2 linked regions of the Homo sapiens genome follow. The protein of the gene in region 1 purifies or fractionates together with the protein of each later gene. This does not show direct contact. Each region holds a gene or a part of one and is shown on either strand. Other genes may lie near its edges. The genes, in order: TEDC2 and RAI14.

What was found.
Region 2: the proteins of TEDC2 (region 1) and RAI14 purify together in Homo sapiens (affinity purification with mass spectrometry; one large-scale study listed by BioGRID and IntAct). This does not show direct contact.

Annotation. Positions count from the first base shown.
Region 1 is NC_000016.10:2,458,776-2,463,069, reverse strand, and holds the start of TEDC2 (tubulin epsilon and delta complex protein 2), read right to left. Parts: upstream 2,962-4,294; 5' UTR 2,926-2,961; coding exon 2,900-2,925; intron 2,788-2,899; coding exon 2,689-2,787; intron 2,448-2,688; coding exon 2,377-2,447; intron 2,255-2,376; coding exon 1,846-2,254; intron 1,324-1,845; coding exon 1,270-1,323; intron 922-1,269; coding exon 831-921; intron 656-830; coding exon 544-655; intron 440-543; coding exon 338-439; intron 1-337. UniProt on the Homo sapiens protein: Acts as a positive regulator of ciliary hedgehog signaling. Required for centriole stability.
Region 2 is NC_000005.10:34,809,553-34,813,362, reverse strand, and holds part of RAI14 (ankycorbin), read right to left. Parts: intron 2,352-3,810; coding exon 2,245-2,351; intron 1,597-2,244; coding exon 1,418-1,596; intron 1,184-1,417; coding exon 1,155-1,183; intron 1-1,154. UniProt on the Homo sapiens protein: Plays a role in actin regulation at the ectoplasmic specialization, a type of cell junction specific to testis. Important for establishment of sperm polarity and normal spermatid adhesion.

The sequences.
Region 1 (4,294 bases):
GATTACAGGCGTGAGCCACCGCGCCCGGCCCTCACATGCTAGTTTTTCAACAACTGGGTGAATAAGCAACTGCTCAGAGCAATGAGGTTCTGTGTGCGGGGAGCAGCGAGGTGGGAGAGCTGCCCTGAGGAGGAGAGGAAGGCTGACTGCTCCCATAGGACGACTGGTGAGGACCCAGCACACTGGGGAGTGGCGTGGGAGGGGTGGAGGGGCCCACCAACTTGCATCTGGTCCCTGGGCTGCTCACCCTTCCCTGAGGCGCAGACAAGCCTGGCTAAAGCACCCTGTCCCCGGCCCAGACCTCAGTGCAGGTGGCAGGGTGGGGGCGGGGTCTCACCTGCACGCAGCTCCTGCAGCCTGTGCAGACACTGGCCCACCATGGCCTGCAGCCCCTCCAGCGTGAGCAGGCAGCGGTACTCCTGCATCCAGTCCATGGGGGCTGCAGAAGAGTCAGGGAGAGCAGGTGGGGCCCGTGGCAGTCTGGAAACCCTCCCTGCACTGGCCCTCCACACTCCTCCTGATACAGACCCAGGACCCACTGACCTGCCGAGAGCTCCTCCCTCATGCGCAGTCTCAGCAGCGAGCAGGCCTTCCGCAGGCGCCCCGCCTCCGCCTCCACCTCCACAGCACTGAGCCTGGGCTGGGGCCCGCCTGACTGGATATGGGTCAGGAAAACTTCCCTGCAGCCAAAGCCCCTCTGCTCCCACCAAGAACGGGGCCTGGGGAGTGGCCCTGGCCATCCCACGCCAGCCCCTCCTGGGGCTGCTCTGCAAACCTGCCAGGTTCAGAGCTAGAGGCCCCCAGGGCTCCCACAAGCCCAGCAAGGATACAGCTGTCTGCATGTTCTGGAGGAACTGGGTTTTGGCAGCGGCGGCATCCGTGGAATCACTGGTCTGTGTGGAACTGAGCTGGGCCCACAGGCTGGGGTGCACACGTGGGGTGCACAGAGGAACCACAGAGGGACACGGTTATTCCAGCCAGTAAGCTGGGCCTTGGGAGGTAGGCAAGGGCCAGGGTGGGGACCCCAGGCTGGGCGTCTGGCTCTGCTGAATGCCAGGAGGGGCCTCCAGAGGCCGCAGGGAACCAAGAGGACACTGACTAGGACAAGGGGACAAAGCTGACCGGCTGGCAGATTTTTAACATCGACAGTGATCCCACTCAGCAAAGAGGACAAAGAGACCCACTGGAAAGTATCTCGAACCTGTCCCCGAGCTGGTGATGCCTCCCGGTTCTCCCCTACCCCCGTCCAGCCAAAGACCTCAGCCTCACCTCGAGTTCTGGGAAGCTGCTTTCCTGAATGCCGCAGGCAGCCGCAGCAGGTGCCTGTCGGAGAAGCCCGTGTTCAGAGGAGCATCGCCTTGCTCTGGGGTCTACAAGTCCCACTTCCTGCTCAGAGCCCAATCAGGGATGAGGCTTCTTGCCCCTCTCCCACACCCGACCCCACCAAGGATGAGCCCCCTTGGATAGGGCTTCCAGAGTGGCCATAGGAGAAGCATCGTCCAGTGCTGCCCCATTAGAGAGAAGAGGGGGCCCTGTGAGCGGGGCCCTGTGAGCAGATCCCACGCCCTCCAGAGCCCATCTGGAGCCTCTGGCCTGGGCAAATAAGGGGACAGCCACAGAGAAGAGAGGAGGACAGGCTCCAGTACTTCCCTGACCTGATGGTGCCAACCTGGACACCACCACACAGCTGCTTCATTCTGCCAGCTTCTGAGCATGAGCCTCAGGGGTATGCCACAGGGCTCGATGCCCTGCCTTCCCTGTCACCCCAAATCCCAGGCTCCTTGCTAGCCAGGGTCTGAGGAGGCAGAGACAGAAGTCCCTCCAGTGAGGGTCCGGGAAACCTACCCCTTCTCCTTGAGTGTGAAGGCTTCTGGGGCCTGAGGAGCAGCGGATGGGGCCATTTGCTGGTCCCTGAGGCCCGCCCCAGGCCTGGGGGTTCGGGCTCCCATCCCAACACGGGTCCCATCCCCCACTGACAGCAGCCGGCGCTCAGGGTGGCCCTTGGCAGGCACCGTGGTCTGGCGGAGGCCCTTGGTGGGTCTCGTGTCTGAAGCATGGCCACCAGCTTGGCCTGGGGAATGCGGTGGGGCGGAGGCTGTCGTGCCAGAAGAGGTGACAATGGACCTAGATTTCAGGCTGGGGGCCTTGTCTCTCTCTCCGGCCTTAGTGATGCCTCTTCGAACTCGTACAGCCTTCTCCAGTGCCTGGGTCAGAAACTCCAACTCTTTGAGGTCTTGTGGACTGGGTGTGCATGCTGTGAAAGCCAAGAATTATGCAGGGATCTCTCCCCACTGTCCCCCAGGAGGGTTCCTCACAACTGCACGCCAGCAGACAGGCCAGAGCAGCACCTGGAGAAGGCGGGTGGTGGAGGTTTACCTGGAAGGGGGTCCTCTCCATTAGTTTCTGGCCCTGGAGGTGGCTTCAAAGCCCGGGTCCCAGTTGGTTCCCTGCAAAGACACGGGCAGCCGTCGCACGGCCAGGAGGCAGGGCCCAGCCCAAACAGACCCGAGGGGGCCGCCGGGCCCCGCGGCAGGCCCCCAGCTCAGAGCCTGCAGGGTAAGGAGGGTGGCACTGACAACCCACAGCTCCGAAGTGGGCGGCTGCGCCCGGTCTCCCAGCCCTGGGCGCTCGGGGCGGGACTCTGAGGGCCCGAGGGAGGTCTGGCCAGTGGGTCCGGGGTCCGCGTACCAGGCATGCAGCAGCCGACGGCAAACGCGCAGGCTCTGCTCCAATTGCAATTGTCGCTGTGCGCAGGCGTCCAGGGCGCCCTGCAGCTCGGCCACCAGCCTGGGGGACGCACCGGCGGCTCAGCACCTCGGCCAGCGTCGGGCCTCGGGCCCCGCGCCTGGCTACCGGCCCGCCCGCATCCTCCCACCCCCTCCTGCCGCGCAGGCCTCACCGGCGCGAGCAGCCCGCCGGCAGCATGAAGGCGGCGGCGTCTCCTTGCAATTTGCCGCCTCTGAAGAGCCACGCCCCTTCCGGGAGGGAAGGCCGCCCCTTCCCGGCCGGGCTGCCCAATCCTGAACCGGGGCTCAGGGGCCGCCCCCGAAGCTTTCTCTCCCTCCTTGCGGGCAAGCCTCAAGCCCCGCCCACTCCTGCCTCCCAGGTCTGACGGGGACTCCGGCTCGGAGCTGGGCCCCCGAGGCCGCCAGGGAGGTGACTGCGGGCGACGCCGGGATTTTGGTTTGGGTAACTGGGTAGATGGGGGCGCCATTATCGCGCTTCTCTTGCAGGGGGCCGGTGAAGGTTATACGAGAGGCTCCATCTGTCCTTATTGAAAGTGCTCTTAACGCAGGGACCAGCCGTCTTGCTGACGCCTGGGCCACCGAGCACAGGGACAGGACGGGGTTGCTGGAGGTGAGGATTCCGCGTGTCAGGGGCGGGGATGAAGGAGGAGAAAGTGTTCACTTTTGGACATGTGACGTGATAGCACTGGGCAGAGGGGAGGAAGCTCAGACCTTGGAGCAGTGGGCCAGGCGAGGTGGCCCCTGGTGGGGCAGGGGACGGGTAGGGACAGATCACGGGGCCCACGCAATGGCCAGGGAGGTGGAGGAGCAGTAGGACAGTGTCACAGAGGCAACAGGAGGCTGTCACGGGAGGGAGTGGGTCACAGGCCAAGTGCTGCTGAGGCCTCGGCGGTGTACACAGCACAGCAGGGGGGCGGGGGTACAGGGCCTTCGGTGATGCGGGGGACACCTGAGGGAGGAAGTGAGGAAGGCAGCAGGGCCCCATGTAGTTGGTGTTAACAAGAATAAACAATTAGGGGGCAAGAAATCCCAGGCGGTAGCTGAAAGAAAAACAGAGCCTGGGGTTGCTGTTTAAAGATGGGACAGGTGAGTCCATTCCATAGTCGTTAATGGGAAGGTGCCATCGCAGAGGGGAAGGAGGGCACAAAGGGAGTTGTCAGGGAGGTTGGGACCCAGGCAGCTCTGGCCCAGCGCTCCGGGTGGGCCCCTCCATCAGCGGTGGGGGAGGGTGACGGTGGCCCTGCCTCCCTGGAGATTCTCTGTGAAGGAGGAGGCAGGGAAATGCTCAGTCAGCAGGTGGGTGATGCAGGAACCCACCCACCACAGGCAGGCGGGGCCAGGTCCCCCTGGAGTGGTTTCCTCCTTCAGGTGCAAGCTGGGAGAAAGCAGAGAACTGACTCCATGCAGAGTTGGGATTAAGAGCCCCTGGACAAGGGGCCGAGGCAGTGAAGGACGTCCATCACTCATCTGCCACTATCCTCCTCACATTTAATCCTCACAACACCCCTGTGAGGTAGGTATCATTGCCCCCCTTACAGATGAGGAAA
Region 2 (3,810 bases), on another chromosome or scaffold:
AAACACATGAGACAAAACCAGATTAGGTTGGTGTGGAGAACTGGGAAAGTAGAGGTTGAGGTCTACTACAACTTAGAATCCAGAATACAATCACAGCCAGCTTTCTGTATTAATGAAAAGCAATGGTATTTCCCACACGTCTGCATTACTTCCATTCCTTTTTTTAAAGACTATAAATATGAGGGAAAGGGATAACTTCATTTTTGAAGGTTACTGGTAAGTAATACAGTTAGCACATAAATTTAGTATTGAGTATTTGCTGTTTATGATTTCTTCAAGAACGTAGATGTGTAAATAAATAAACAACCAAACATATACTGTTCATCAAAAAAACAGATAGTGACAATATATTTTTAGAAAAAACTACACAATAACAGGGCAAACTCAATTTCTACTTTGTGTAACACCACATGACGTTCTAGAAAAACCCTAATTAAAAGAAAAGGCTAAATTCTCTTATTTTCATTAAATAGCTAACATTTTCTGGCTGAAGCTCTGTAGCTCATGTGATATTACAAGTATTTAAAACAGTGTTATTCAGTCACAGAGTTTAAGCCACATCAAACATTTTCACACCAATAGGAAGTATGAGTTAGTACATTTCAGAAAAAGATGAACATATAAGTAGCAAGTTTAAAGTTACATGCTTTTGAAATAAAGCAAATTATTAAGGAAAGCTTTACCACCTTTTTTTTTTGAGACGGAGTTTCACTCTTGTTGCCCAGGATGGAGTGCAATCGTGCAATCTCAGCTCACCGCAACCTCTGCCTCCTGGGTTCAAGTGATTCTCCTGCCTCAGCCTCCCGAGCAGCTGGGATTACAGGCACGCACCACCATGCCCGGCTAATATTGTAATATTAGTAGAGGCGGGGTTTCTCCATGTTGGTCAGGGTGGTCTTGAACTCCCGACCTCAGGTGATCCACCAGCCTCGGCCTCCCAAAGTGCTGGGATTACAGGCGTGAGCCACCGGCCCGGCCTGGCAACCTTTAACACCTTATAACAATGACTTATTTATTCAAAGATATTTCAGTCCCTAAGTATTTTCAATATAGTCTTTATTACTTTACTAGTGGACCAGAGTGGTTAAATCTGAACATTTTTAAATTCCCACAAGCATAAATGAAACATAGAAGCCTCCCCCAAAGATAAATACCTGCTTTGGTTTTGTTGGGGTCTTTAAATCTATAGAGGAAAAAGTGAAAAAAAGAACTATAAGAAGCATAATGATTCATATTCACTTTGGGTGGGGGGATACACACACATACACCATATACAATATTTTTTAACACTCCTTTTTTTTTCAAGAATATGTTTAAAAGAATAATAAAATATATCATATTGCACACATTCCTTTATCCTTTGGGGAAAATGGAGTGGATAAACTTAAAACAACATTGGCTATTTTCTTTTACATACCAGCATCCTGAGAGATTTTTGATAATAGAAGGCTTTGAATTCCTGCATTTTCTGAGAGTTTGGAATAATGTAAGGCATTGTATCCAAGAGAATCTACAAGGTTTAGGTCTGCACCCTTTTTAATTAAGGCTTCCACAGCGTTAGAGCTGCCAATCTCACAGGCCAGCATGAGAGCAGTTCTAAAGGAAAAAAGAGACACAAAATTAGTACTAAGAGAATGTAAAAAGTCTTTCTTGGGAAATCAGTTGTCTTAAAAAAAGAGAAAAGAAGATTAAGTGCAGTTAAACCTTTATTACACTTAATCTTCAGGGAATTCGAAGTGGAATGCAATCAAGATGAAATTAGGTGGTTTTTTTTTTTTTTAAACTTCAGATTAAATCAAAACATTAAACCACATTTTGTCAAACAACACAATCTTCTATACTATTTGGCATAATATGATGGGATTTAATATGACTGGCATGAATCTTATCCTTGTTTTACCTCAAGCATTTTAAATAACATATATATTTCTAAGACCATTTCTCCAAAACAACCAATAGGTTTGTTTTATTTTGCATAGAAAGTCACAGGAAATTGTTTATTCACATTAGCATTTAATAGTCTCCTCACAGACTTAGCCAGCAATGATGTCCACAGATGTCTGGGGAAAATTGCTTTAAAGTCAACATAGATTCTTGATTATCAGAAACAGTAGAACTTTAAAAAGGTAAGAAGTTAAAAATCCCTTATAACAAATGATCCAAAATATAGCTGTGATATTTTGAAATACTCTCAGAATGTGGGTATCACTGAAGTCACATGATTTCTGCCTAATTCTGGAGTACCTTCCACTTTTGTTCCTGGAATTGACATCTGCTCCATGATCCAGGAGAAAGTGACAGATCTCACTGTGACCATTTTGTACAGCAAGAAGCAGCGGTATATTCCCATCCTAGGAGACAAATTCAGATTTAGATTTTACCTCAGGCACAAAATGCCAGAATTGCAAAAGTCAGCCCCTGTTTTTTGCACATTTTTCTCCTGACTTGGACTGCTGACTGCTGATCTAGTATCTGGTCCAACCTGATATTCTGTACCCCTATAGAGTCACGATTGTATGTTGGCACAACTCTTGTTATGGAATTTTACTGAATGCTAGCTTTTACATAGGAGCTCCAGCTTCTTGCGGCTGCTTATGCCCTTGGCTATCACTGTTTGGGTGACTGTGAGAGAGGACAGAACACAAAGTGTGTAAAGGCTCAAGGCAAGTGTACCGGGTATACTGAGGGACGGTGCTGGAGAAAGGAAGGGCGTGTCTCCGCACGACACCAGAAGATCCCACTGCCCTGTAGGCAGCTTATTCCCAGTGCACTAATCATTATATATCCTGCCATTCCACTTTTACCGAAAGTGTACCCTTTAGTAATCTTGCTATGTATCAAAATATAACATAAATTAAGAGCCTATGTCTGTTACTAACACATGACTAGATAAAGAAATGGATAGAAAGAATAATTATGTCATGACAATTGCAACCCCTTTGGGAAAAAGGAAATCTAGGTCTCCAACTCATATACAAACTATGTCAGGTGGATTAAGCATTTAAACATTACAATATAAAACAAATGATGAAAAATACTAGAAGAATATACATAAGTATTTTTTGTAATCTTAGGTCTGACACAAACCATAAAGAGAAGTTGTTATTTTGTTTTTTTTCTGGAATATACCCTATAAATCCATCGACAGTGAGTTTTAAGGTAGAAGCATTCAATAGGCAAAGGGAAAAGATGTTACAATATATCCAACTATTTAAAAATACAAGTGCTACTTAAAGATTGAGTATTGTCATAAAGAATTTCAGATAGATTTCTGGGCACTATCTCTGTGAAGTTATACTACTTTCTGCTTAGGAAGTACTGAACTTCAAGGAATATGAATTTATTTACAGATTCTATCTAGTCACTTCACAGCATCTCCATCAAATATAAGTGTATGCATGTCAGTTCTCATGCTGCAACATGAAATATAACCCCATGACAGAACCATGTGATAGGTATATAAATTTATTCTCAAAGTAGCCTGGTGAAGTTAAAATAGCCTAGTAATGGTCTTCAAAGTTGGGAGATTCTACGTAGAAGTTATCCAAGTGCAGAAAGAAAGTAGTAAAATTTCTATTTAGACTTATTTTTAAAAATCAAGAAATTAAGCTTTATTTGTAATTACATTGATGGTAGAAAACATGTATAGCCGTAGAAATAAATATACCTATATAGGAAATATATGCTGCAAAATGTTTTACTAATGTTTTAGAAGCTAATTAACCTTCTTCCCAGTTTAGAAAAAAAAAAAAAAGTGCAGCTCTCTGCCAGAGCTCATTTAATTTTATATAAACACACTCTTTGAGGCTG